Linked DNA regions of Homo sapiens: all the other regions are linked to region 3. Evidence: fine-mapped expression QTL. A gene starts in region 3. Each other region holds a variant in brackets. All regions are shown on one strand. Distances are between the middles of the regions. Region 1 overlaps SHISAL2B (shisa like 2B). Region 2 overlaps SREK1IP1 (SREK1 interacting protein 1). Region 3 holds the start of SREK1IP1 (SREK1 interacting protein 1).

The links. PIP is the estimated chance that this variant, and not a neighbour inherited with it, causes the effect. A credible set is the group of variants that fine-mapping cannot tell apart.
Region 1: its variant is the best candidate, but not a certain one, in a credible set for the expression of SREK1IP1 in whole blood (INTERVAL, PIP 0.64).
Region 2: its variant is the best candidate, but not a certain one, in a credible set for the expression of SREK1IP1 in skeletal muscle (FUSION, PIP 0.86).

Annotation. Positions count from the first base shown.
Region 1 is chr5:64,717,289-64,721,534 of GRCh38, reverse strand. SHISAL2B (shisa like 2B) reads right to left here. Exons shown (of 3, transcript NM_001164442.2): 3 at 3,345-3,646. The coding sequence ends at 3,513. SREK1IP1 (SREK1 interacting protein 1) reads left to right here. Exons shown (of 5, transcript NM_173829.4): 5 at 1-3,387. Among named protein-coding and RNA genes, the nearest start is that of SHISAL2B, 29 kb to the right of the region's middle. The variant C/G (reference allele first, on the strand shown) is at 2,001.
Region 2 is chr5:64,722,531-64,726,776 of GRCh38, reverse strand. It overlaps SREK1IP1 (SREK1 interacting protein 1), which reads left to right. Exons shown (of 5, transcript NM_173829.4): 5 at 2,204-4,246. The coding sequence ends at 2,393. Among named protein-coding and RNA genes, the nearest start is that of SHISAL2B, 34 kb to the right of the region's middle. The variant G/T (reference allele first, on the strand shown) is at 2,526.
Region 3 is chr5:64,766,489-64,770,734 of GRCh38, reverse strand. It overlaps SREK1IP1 (SREK1 interacting protein 1), which reads left to right and starts at 2,044. Exons shown (of 5, transcript NM_173829.4): 1 at 2,044-2,230. The coding sequence starts at 2,218. CWC27 (CWC27 spliceosome associated cyclophilin) reads right to left here and starts at 1,805. Exons shown (of 14, transcript NM_005869.4): 1 at 1,547-1,805. The coding sequence starts at 1,588. LOC124900985 (a long non-coding RNA gene) reads left to right here and starts at 2,239. Exons shown (of 4, transcript XR_007058787.1): 1 at 2,239-3,780. RefSeq lists enhancers at 1,309-2,033, 1,752-2,071, 2,222-2,311, 1,463-2,662, 2,034-2,760 and a silencer at 1,999-2,293.

The sequences.
Region 1 (4,246 bases), 49 kb after region 3:
TTTCTTCATACTTAATATACATCTCCATTTACATCTTTGACTCTCTGAGGTCAAAACAACAATAAATGAGAAGTAAAACAACTATATGTGTTTGTATTTACAACTGTATCTAAAATTATATAACCCTAGTTTACCTTCAGAGTAAACTAGGCTGAAGAGTTGTTAATAATGTTGATAAAAATGCCATTGAATCCTTTCTTCAACAAATATTTATTGAGTACCTAACGTGGCAAACGCTGTGCTAAGTACTGGGGATACAGAGATAAGTAAGACACATTTGCCTCCCTGAAGGACTTCACAGTGTAGTTGGTAGGAGAAACACCAGAGCATACACCGTTATATAATTAGTGCAGTAATTGACATGAACATGAGTTTATAGAAACTCGGGGTTACCTAAAGTAGTCTGGATAAATTAGAAGAGGCTACCTAGAGAAAGTAGTGACTGAATTGCAATTTGATTAAGGATAAGAATGAGGGTTATGGCAGTTCCTGACAGAGTGGGTACTGTGAACAAACACCAGAGGTAGAACAAGCTGTGTTATGTGTTTGTCAAGAATTACAAGCAATCTGGTGTTGCTGGTGTATCATAGGCGAGGCAGGAAGTGGTAAGAATTGAGACTACCATTTTAAGTTCTTAGGAACAGGAGGAAGGAGTCGTGTGTTCCGTGTTTGGGAGCTTGAACTGTAATGTGTAAGCAATGAGACACCATTAAAGAGTTTCAAGGGGGGCCGGGCACAGTGGCTCACGCCTGTAATCCCAGCACTTTGGGAGGCTGAGGCGGGCGGATCACCTGAGGTCAGGAGTTCAAGACCAGCCTGGCCAACTTGGCGAAACCCTGTCTCTACTAAAAATAGAAAAATTAGCCGGACGTGGTGACAGGCACCTGTATTCCCAGCTACTCTGGAGTCTGGGGCAGGAGAATCGCTCAAACCCAGGAGGTGGAAGTTGCAGTAAGCTGAGATCACACCACTGTACTCCAGCCTGGGCGACAGAGCGAGACTCTATCTCAAAAAAAAAAAAAGATTTTAAGGAAGGAAATGACTTTTATTAGGGTTTGGTTTTATCAATTTCATAATCCGATTAATCCCACCATTTTTAAAAGATGAAATTGCTTTCATTAGAAGGCTACATAAAATATAATTTGATTATTTTAGGCTCTATTATTAGACTCACATTTCTTTCTACAGTCTCATTATTATTTCCAAAAATTACACAGTAACCTAAATCATCTAAAAACACATAAAGCTACTGTATTCTTTATTAGATCCATCCCCAGAGTTATATGTACATGTACATACTTTGAGATGTGTTTTGTTCTTAATTGTATTTTAGGTTATTTTTGACTGACTTAAATTCTATCACTATTTTAATATTTGTTAGGTCCGAATAAACCATTTAGAATATTTTTCAGTGTACAAAATGTGCTGTAATTTAATAAGGCCCCTTGCTTTTAAAATTTGGCTTAACCTGTGAAGCACAACTGCTTCAGAGTTACAGAGAAACATACCAGTTGGTCCACTGGATGAGCCCTGTGGTTCTACCTCAGGTAACCTAGTGATAAGCTAGCTCAGCAGGGAGTGCTTCAAGGACTCCAGCTGATCCTAGTGCTGAGACCAAAACTTCCTGGACATTGGGTGCCCAAGAACAGTAGGTTTCTTATACCAGTGTGACAATAATCCCAGTTGCGAAGGCCAGTCTTCTGATCTCAGTATCTCCTCCCAACTCCTCTAAAAATAGGTAGAGTGGCAGAGAATTGGGGTGCCTCTTCTATAGCACAACCCATGATGCATCCAGTCATGCCTGACCCCACTATGCCTTTCCCACAAATTGGGAGGAGTTGGGGCAGTGAGCATTTTGCTAGCTCTGTCTGTTTCTTGCTTCTTGTGCCATTTATAGTCCTTGGCCATGAGCAACAAAAGTAGAATGGTGCCAGTGCCTTAACTAAATTTTTCTCAACCTAGATTTTCACCTGAGACAATATGGTAATATTATTAAATTA[C/G]TGTAAAGATAGCAAATTTTCTGGGATACTTTAAAATCAAAGTTGTATCAAAGATCAAGAAGCACCCATAAAAGCTTTATAAACTTTCACAAAAAATAAGTGAAAATTCTTTGTTTTTATGGCCGTGTAAAATGTCATTTTTATAATGGAAATGTCTTAATTTTCAAACTTAACATATACTTTAAGCAATTTTAGTATTTAAACCTTTGCAAAATTGTATTTTTGAATGTGAAGTTCAACTTTGGCAGTAGGTTGTTGCAATAGTGATCTGGCACTATGGTGCCAGTATAGCCACATAGGGTTATTTAAATTAATTAAATAAATGAAAAATTTTATTTTTTCAGTTGCATTAGCCACATCTTAAGTGTTCAGTAGCCACATGTGACTGGTGGCTACCATATTAGTGCAGATATAGAAAGAACATTTCCATCATCACAGAAACTTCTCTTAATTCTGGTCTAGAAGATAACCTTAGTACTTGGTAGAAATTTTGACAGGCTAATGACGAAAAGTTTGTAACCCTGAGCTTTGCATGCCCAAGAAAAATAAGGTATTCTTTTTTATATATCAGACCAGAGAAGCTGTATTCAGCACATTTTGAAATGCTAGTTTTTGGCTATGGCCATACCACCCTAAATGTGCCAGATCTTGTCTGAAATGCTAGTTTCTGACTACAAAAACTACAGGACATAGTAGATATGCTCAGTAGAGCTGCTTAAAATAATTCCCTTTTTTTTTCTGTTGAATTCTGTTACAAAACCAGGTCTGTGTTATAATAGAAAACACACTTATGAATAAAAATCTTTAAAAATTATAATTTGCAGAAATTAGTTTTATTTCTAGATTTCTAGGTGGTATTAATGTGATAGCATTAGGTGGGACCAGAGAACTCATTTGTTTTGTAGCTTTCATTATACAGATTATTTAGGAAATATATCAGCAAAGGATTTTTTGTTATGCTTATCTCTTGAAACAAAATATTTATTGTACAGATTATACATTGTGATTTTTTTGTTACTGAGTATATTGTTTGTGCCCAGAAAAATCTAAAAAGATGTGGGTTGACTTCTAAGAGATTTAAGAACAAGTCACCTCTAGTTTTTAAGACAGTTCCCTTGATATTTACCTATCCAGTACCATCTCATAAGAATAACTGCCTGTAAGTATCAGAAAGTTGAGAAATGCTGGTAATGTGACATAAACTTCTCACTGTTCTTCACTGAGATAGGACTGCTTATCTTGTTATTGATAAATTATTTAATTTCTCCTGAATAATTAGCATAATCTCATGTGATACAGAAACATCTTAATTAGCAAATAAATTTATACAAAGGAAAACCAATAAAACCTTAATGTGCGTTTAATAAAGTAACTGAATGATCAAAAATGCAGCTGTGTCTTGCTTTGTGAGTGACGAATTTTTGAAAAGCAATATTACAAACCGTTTCAAGTGCACGCTTTATTTTTATTGTCCCATCTCTCCAGTAAGCATTTAAAACACAGAATTTTTAGTTAATAAGCAATGTGGATTTGTGTTGCATCCATTGTTTTTTCTTGAATTATATCATCAGCTTCATAGTATGTTTCATTTGTTGCATTTGATGCTGCATTTGAATTGAGGGCTTTGGTTTTTCCATTTGACTTGCCTGCAGATACACAAAACAAAATAATTATTTGAAATTATGACATCGTTTCACTTATAAAAATTTGCACTTAAAAATAATTTTTGTAGCAATATTGAAAATATGATGTCCTGAAAATGCTATGTGTATGAGTGAGAATTGAGTTATTTTGAAGTGGTTTTTGAGTATTTCCTTATGAAAGTCAAATAAGGGAAATAATTCAGTAATAAAAAAATTTATTTCCATGCTTACCTTTTTTCCTCCATGCTTCCATGAGGAAAATAACTACACATCTGATAAGAAGGTAACAATTTCTGAGTGACTTAACAAAAGTGTGACTGTCCCTCTCCTATGCATAAACTACACTAAAGCCAATCATAGTAACTTGCCCAACCTTAAGGCTTTGCCATTATAACTGATTTAGATGTGGTTTATTAAAAGGACACAGTAGTGCCACAATCCCATTCACTCACTCCATATAAATATGAGTCCAAAATGAGCAAAGGTGAAGGAATATGGATCTTTGCTGATCAGAAGTTAGTCTAAACAAACATAGCAAAGAAATGGATTATTCAATGAACAGTGTTAGGAAAAGTTGAATGATTGTAGAAATAATTAATGTAT
Region 2 (4,246 bases), 44 kb after region 3:
ATAGGCTTTGTGTTAGATGATTTTGCCCAACTAGAGGCTAATGTAAGTGTTCTGAGCATATTTAAGGGCAGCCACGTTAAGCTATGATGTTCAGTAGGTTAGCTGTATTTTGTGTATTTTCAGCTTCAGATAGATTTATCAAGGCGTAACTCCATCATAAGTTGAAGTACATCTGTATATTTCTTTTTTTTTTTTTTTTTTGAGACAGAGTCTCGCTCTGTTGCCCAGGCTGGAGTCCAGTGGCACAGTCTCAGCTCACTTCAAGCTCCGCCTCCCGGGTTCACTCCATTCTCCTGCCTCAGCCTCCCCAGTAGCTGGGACTACAGGTGCCCACCACCATGCCCGACTAATTTTTTTGTATTTTTAGTACAGACAGGGTTTCACCGTGTTAGCCAGGATGGTCTCAATCTCCTGACCTTGTGATCCGCCTGCCTCAGCCTCCCAAATATTTTTTATAGTAACAGATTATTTATTTGGGCCTCTTTACCTTGAGCATCACAAACCTGAAATTAAATTAACTTTTCTGTGCACACTTAGCAGAGATAGTGCCCCCTGAAAGTGTTGCTATGCCACAGCCTGAAATTTTGCCTTAAAAAGGAGACTTCAGGCCAGGCACGGTGGCTCACTCCTATAATCCCAGCACTTTGGGAGGCTAAGGTGGGTCGATCACCTGAGGTCTGGAGTTTGAGACCAGCCTGGCCAACACAGTGAAACCCCATCTCTACTAAAAATACAAAAAAAATTAGCTGGTGGATTACAGGTGGGTACCTGTAATCCCAGCTACTTGGGAGGCTGAGGCAGGAGAATTGCTTGAACTCGGGGGAGCGGAGGTTGCAGTGAGCCGAGATCACGCCATTGCACTCCAGCCTGGGCAACAAGAGTGAAACTCTGTCTCAGAAAAAAAAAAAAAAAAAAGAAACAAACAAAAAAAAAAACTTCAGGACCAAAAAGCTAAAGAAAAAAGTGCAGGCAGGGAAGAAGCTTTAGTCAGAATCCAGAGGTCAAGTCAAACAGGGTCTTTAAAAGAGGAAAATAGACAAGATTTGAGAATAACAACTGAAGAGGCAAGGGTGCAGGAGAATACATGAGAAAATAAGCTTTAACAGATGATTGGAAGTCTAAGTAAGTAGACAAACAAGGAGGAAAAAGGAACACAACATTACAAAAATAAGGGAAAACTCGGAGTCACTAAAGGAGGAAGGCAGTCAAGGAATTCACACACTATACAGACACAAAATAGCCTTGGAGCCCTGTAGTCTCCTGAATTTACATTGGCACCTCCTTTATATCCGTCTCAGATTTTCTTAGTTTGAGTTTTAACTCCTAATATTTAGATCACTAAACTAACTCTTTAGATACCTTTGTTTACATTTTAAATTAACTCAGTTTCTGTCTTGTCACTCATATTTTGAGTTTGAGTATAGGTAGAATGTTGCACATCTCTTTAAGTAAGATCTTAAAAGATAGGGTTTTCTGTTTTTTTCTTTTTCTTTTCCTTTTTTTTATGAATATTAGAGGAAGGAATTGAACCAATTTTTTCAATTTAGTATTAGAGTAATATTTTTCAAAAGCACAATGATAACCCATCCTTTTTCATTTATATATAGCATAAAAGCATCCTTTTGTAACTAATGAAAATTATTTTGTAATGCAAGTATTCATCTGTATCACTCTCCGTCTAGAGGGATCAAGTACTTGAAAAATCAGAAGAATTACCAAAAGTGCTTTTATTTTGCTAACTTTCAGCTTTCATTCATTCATATGAACGTACAATTATAGCCCTTTAAAATAGAGAATTGCAACTTTTGAGACACTTTTAAGAAAATATGCGAAGTTATTGTATACACAAGTGAATATAATAAGGCTTGGTGAATGCCCCTTTGTTTGCCTTTTAGGATTTTGAATGATATGACTGCATGAAAAACCAAAAATCACAGAAAAATAATTTCATCCTTATTGACTTTAAAACTCATTACATTAGTATTGAGTGGAATAGATACTAGTTTTGTTGGTTTCTGTGACCAAGCAGCAAAAATTCTAAATTCATCGTTTTAAGGGAATGCAAATATATGAAGCATTTTTTAAGTTTATGTTTATACTCCCTACCTTACTCCAAGAAGAATTTAAGGCAGTTCAAATCCCACTTAAATTTATCTATCAGTCATAAATGCAATTCTCAGTCAGTATGTATTATTATCCATAGGTCTTACTCATCCAGTTCCACTGAAGAGGACACTTCAAAACAAAAGAAACAAAAATATCAGAAGAAAGAAAAGAAAAAAGAAAAAAAGAGTAAATCAAAAAAAGGGAAACATCACAAAAAGGAAAAAAAGAAGAGAAAAAAGGAAAAGCATTCTTCTACACCTAATAGTTCTGAATTCTCCAGAAAGTAACTGAGACTTTGGCTTAAGCCGTTAAATTTAAAAATTTGTTTTTAAAACGTGTTTGCCCTTCCTTGGAATTTGCTATATATTATGCTTTGCAATAAATCACAGCCTTTTCCATATAGACATTTTTCGTATTTG[G/T]GACCATTATCCCTCTGGCAATATATTTTTAATGTGCTGTAACTGTAAAGTATTAAATCAGTCTTGTTACTTGATAGCCATGCCCCAAGTATAGCTATTTGTGTATACTAAACACATCATTTTTGGTATTTGTGTCTCTGTGTGTTTGGCTAGTGTTACTACTTCATAAGTTCATTGTAAAATGGCTTTACTGCCATCAACATGGGTCATCTACCTAGCAGTTAATGAGTATTGCTGGATCAGGTGTCCACCTTCCAATGATGAAGCAAGGTAAGGGGTAATGTTTTGCTCTTGACACAGAGAAATTTAATAGCTTTATGTACTAAAATATAATATCTTTTAAAGATAGTGAAATTCTTCAGTTTTTTAAATCTCTAGGGATTTTTTTTCAATGTTGTAGAAGATGCAGCTGCTTAATGGTCTTGACTAGGACTTTTTAAATGAATGGTGTCTGCAGGTAGATGATCATGAAAATATCTCTAACAAAGTTTTACTCTTCTATGAAATGCAGAATTTCTAGTACCTGCCTCCTTTGTTTTTGTAATAATTAAAATACTTCTTGTATAAAGAGATTAGTTCAGCCTGTTAGTAAGTCTGCAGAGATGATGCTGAGTTGGTTGTGATTTTTAGAATAGACTCCTGGGTTGTTTTACAAATGTGCCATATTGGCATGTCTTACAGTGATACCTCAAACACAGAAATTTTTATTTAGGAAGATAGCTAAATCTTTATTAGAACTGATTTTTATTGTATTCAGTATAAATTTTATGAAGCTTGTTTCTATGAGTACTGTGGAAAATTTTATAAATGTGAGCATATATATTTATTTTGTCTGACATAATTTGTAGTTTTAAAGCAAGTTTCACACTGAACTTAACGTTTTCATAAATGACCAGTTTGGGATGTTTCTCTCTTTTACTTTAGTGGCAAACTCAAGAGTAAAAAGTGTCAAAAAAAGAATTGAGAATTTTATTCTGTACTTTTTAAAATTTAAGAGCCAGGGAGTTGCATCATGAAAGCCTTTGTATAATAATGGAAATTTTATATGGGTAAGCATTTTCAAACACATATTAGTAGATACGTTTTTTAAATTTCTATTTTCACATTGATCAGTGTTACTTTGCTTAATACTTAGGTAGCCCTTATGTCCACTAAAGTAAATGCTTATGTTGTAGAAGCATCGAACATCAACCAATGTCATGGCACAGCACCAAAGATTGCAAATACCTCACTATGGTGCGCTTAGAAATTTTCAAATTGATAACCTATAGATACGGCTGCAGGTGAATTCATGATAGTGAAATCAGCTAAGTATACTTAACCTCACAGGCTAGAAAGGTTTACTGATTCTTGTTTCACCTGGCACCCAATGTGGATACCCTCAGTAAGACTCAGGGAGCCTTATAACTCCTCTTAACATATGCTTACCCATGCTTAAATTCTAGGGAAGCTGTATCCACAGCCCTCTGCATTGCAGCCATGAGAGCTCTCACGCTTTCAACCCTTCCATAACCTAATTTAGTCATTTGGGCCTCTCAAAAGGAAATGCTTTTGTTTAAATAGGTCAGTCAGTTACTGGGAGAAAAAATACAGAGCCAGTAGGTTTTTAGGGATTTGTTTTGCCTTTGCTGCTAGTTTTTTGAAAATATTCTTCGATTATCAAGATTTTAAAAATCGGTTTTTAATATAAAGCTTTTTTAAAAACGAGGCTGGCACAAGTG
Region 3 (4,246 bases):
ATTCATTTATTCAATACCTATCTGAACTCCTTCTATCATGTATCAAGTACTGTTCCAGATGCTTGTCTCTGCCCTTATGTTCCTTACATTCTATAGGGGGAAGGTAGGAGGAAGGATACAGTAATACTAAATAATTAATAAATACCATGAAAAAAACTAAAAAGGTTAAGGGGGCCAGAGACTGCTGGGATGCAAGGCATGATTGAAGTTTGCTATTTCATAGAAAGTAGATAAGAAAGGGCTCTTTGCTAAGGTCAACACTTGATTAGACAGAGGAACAGCAAGTGTGAAGGCCCTGTCTGGCAGGATGGTAAATCTATTCAATCTCTACCAGTGTTTATTAACTGGGGGTGATATTGCCCTCAAGAAACATTTGGAAATAGGAGGAGGTAGGTATTTTGGGTTTTCACATTGATATTAAATAAGATAGGTGAGGGGTGGGATGGACATACTAATCTACAATGCCCAGGAGAAGTTCAAACAAAGAATTGAAAGAATTGGTCTGCCCATAAAATATCCATTACATTTTTGCTGGGAATTACAGCATTTTTGGTTTCACTTTTAAATTGCTCTCATTACATTATCAAATGTCAATGAATAAAAGACTGTATAAATTATTTATGATGCAATCATGTAACAAACAGGATGGTATGTTGTGTAAATTTAGCTTATCTTAATTCAACTATATACTTCCAATCTCATTTTCTCCAATATGCTGATTCATCAAATTTCATATGTGATATAAGCTAGGTCTCAATTTAAGAATTCAGGTGACACTTATTCCACAACAGACTCTTCTGCCTTGTACAGCATACAAACATCTTGGATGGGAATTGGCATACATTAGCCATCAAATCAATCAGAGAAACCTTTCCCCATTCTAATGTGGTAATAGTCCCCATTTCCCACTTTCTCTGACTGACAGTCATCTCAGGTTTTAAAACCAGCTCAAAAGATATCTTTTCCATGAGGCTTTTCCTAACTTCCCCAGTTGTTCACTACTCAGTACCGCCATAGCAACCTGGTCTCTTCTCCACAAGCACGCTTATCAGACATACAGGCTTTTGTTTACCTGTCTGTCTCACAAACTAAACTATAAGCTTTTCCGGGAAAACAACTACCTTACCCATCCATCTTTGTATCTCCGGCGCCTAGTACAGTGCCCAGTGCCTCGCAGGCGTTCAATTAATGATTGTAGAAGAAATGGAGAATGAATGACCTTAGTTAAGCAAAGAATATATCAAACTCAAAAATGTCTGTTTAAAAACCTAAGACCCCAGAAATCGGCTGCATGAGTTGGGTTAAAGCATTAAATAGGACCGGAATGCTGGTAGGTAGAGAAATCTCCACTTGACTTCTTCAAGTACATCCTGAAAAGTACCAACATCAGTGTTTCGATGCAACATTGTCCACATGCAGGAGTAAAGACAACACTTCTCGTGGTCTCTTCCTACCACGAGATCCTGAAACCCACTCCCCACCCCAAATCCGGGAAATCTCACTTTGGGGATCCCAGGACCCCAAGTTCCCTAGATGAGGCTCTCACCTTCCCATTCGTGGGAGGCTCCTGGATGTAGATGTTGCTCATCTTGGTCAGTACAAAGGACTCTGCTCCTTACGGGGGATGAGAGCGGCCGGCCGGCCACTAAAGCTGTCCGCCTACGAGTACACTCTTCCTTAAGTCCAGTGGTGCAGGAAAGCTTCAGTTTGTCAATATCACGCAAGACAGGGACACCAAACACTACCCCTGCCCAAAGGAGCCCCTCACGGACGCCGCCATGTTGTTACCGGACCCGAGCACCGCTAACCCTGAGAAGGGTTATTCCAATGTACTCCAGGGAACGAGAAAAGTCCGTAAAGTTACCATAGCTTAATGTTATTTATGTTATTTGTATTACAATATTAGAAGGGACACTTCATAAGTGTTGGCGGTGTTTACACTACTCTCGTGTGCAGATCAAACTAACTCCCCCTCCAAAACTATCAGTAATGGTTCGGACCATGTGTCTTCTGCAATATGACTCGTCCGGAAACTGCATCCGCATCTACTGGTTCTGCCGTCGCTAGAGGCGTACAGGCCCTTCCCGACCGTAGCGAGGGTGCTGCTGCGCTGGGGGAAGGAAAACGCCGCTTTGACTGTGCCTTGTTCTCACAGCTGGCGGGAAGCAAGCGCCTTTTCGAAAGCCAGAGGCTCGAGTTACCCCTCTTACCACCGTCATGGCAGTCCCAGGTAAGGAGCAATTACAGGGCCTCTGCGTCCGAGCTCCGAAGGGAGCGCAAGGGAGGGTAGGGTAGGGTGCGGCGTGTACGGAGCAGCGCCCATGGGGATTTAGGCGGAGGCCTTAAAATTCACAGGTTTGTTTTGTTTACATGAAAAAGTTTACACTCCAAACATAAACTCTGAAGGAAAGAAAATAACTATCTTCCCCCCAGGAGCCAAGCCCCAGCTGCTTGGGATTACAGGGAAAGTGTATTGTGGAAGGGAGGGAGGAGGGAGAGACTGTAACTGTAGGCCTAAGGGGGCAAGCGGCCGAGAAAAACTACCTTAACTGTGGTATGGCTTAAAACTAAAACTTGAAGTGGGAACACTTGGCCGACCCAGGTAACCGGAGGCATCGTTTGTCTTAGAAGTCGCTAGGACCCACCGGGTGTGCGGGTTCTACTCCTAGCTCTTCCTGTTGTATGTAGCTGCTCCGTGGCCATAGATTGGTCGCTTTGTGCTTCTGGGCCTCAGTTTCCTTATAAAAAGAAGGAGCTTTGTTGAATTATATATAAGATTTCTTCTAACTCTCAAATTCTATGTCCAGAAGTTACTGACCTAAAAACGGTGAACTCTGCAGAATAATTACTTAAAAGATTTTCTCGTCCTCAACTACCAGCTTACTTGGAAGTTCTAGTAGCGGAAAGCATCTCCTCAAACCAGCTTTGCCACTGCAGAACACTGATTGCAGGAGACATTTTCAGAAATACACACTTCTCCACCCCACCTCCCAACTTGGAAATTCCCAGCGCACTTTAGTAATAGAAAAGATTCTATTCTATTAGAATAGAATACTATGAATTGCTATAGAATTACTATGAACTATAGAATTACTATGGTTCAGAACCCTAACTTTGTTTAAACCTGCACTTCCCAGTATTATTTGACCAGGTTCTTTATTCTGTGGCAGCCTTTTTGAACCTCCTTCTACAGATAGCTGTTATTGGAACACTGTGCTTTTGTACTAACTGAAGTTTGCGGAGGAGTACATCTGGAGCTGTGAGAGAGGAAATGTACACTCTTTATTAAGCCTACTGTGTGCCAGGCACTGGTACTGGGCATTGGAAATACAGTGGTGAGCAAGGTAGACATGGTTACGCTTCACACAGAACTTAGAATTTAGCAGTGAAGAGAGAGAAATTTACAGAAAGTGGGACAAGTGCCATGGCAAGGAAAATACAAGACCTTAGCACAAAGTAAGGGCACCAAACACATACAGGATGGGCAGAAGGACTTTCCAAAGGAGGTAGCACTTAGGAGGAGATCTGAATTGTAGGAGGGGTGGCTTGAAGGGAGAGGAGACTGCAGTCGGAGGAACTGGATACGTAAAGGAAGAGGAAATATGTGAAAAGAGGAAATGAAAGATGTTTTCTATGGATGGAACTCAAATACAGATGGGAGATAAGTGAGAAATTAAGTACAGAGGTAGTAGCTGTAGCTAATATTGACTAATATTTATGTGTCAAATATGTCAGAATGAAAGATGTTTTCTGTGGATAGAACTCAAATACAAATGGGAGGTAAGTGAGAAATTAAGTAGATAGTAACTGTAGCTAATATTGACTAATATTTATAAGTCAAATATGTCAGATACTATATCAAACATTGTATTCTATCTCATTTAATATTCACAACTGCACTGTGAAATGAGTATTAATATTCCCATTTTACAGATGAGGACACTGAGGGACAAAGAAATCAAGTAATTTGCCTATTATGAGACAGCTGGAAAGCAAGAAGTCAGTCTGGTTCCTCTAGACTGTGTACTTCATTCATTTTGCCATCGTATAGGATAACTTACAAGGTAGTTTCCAGCTCTTTAAGGACCTGTAGGCCATGACAAGAGGTTTGGCATTATCCTACAGATGGCAGGAAGCCATTTAAGGATTTTAAAGCAGATTCACATTTTGGAAAGATAATTCTGGCTAGAAAGTAGATTGGAGACAAAGTTTACCAGTTAGGAGTAATTCTGGTGAGTTATAATGA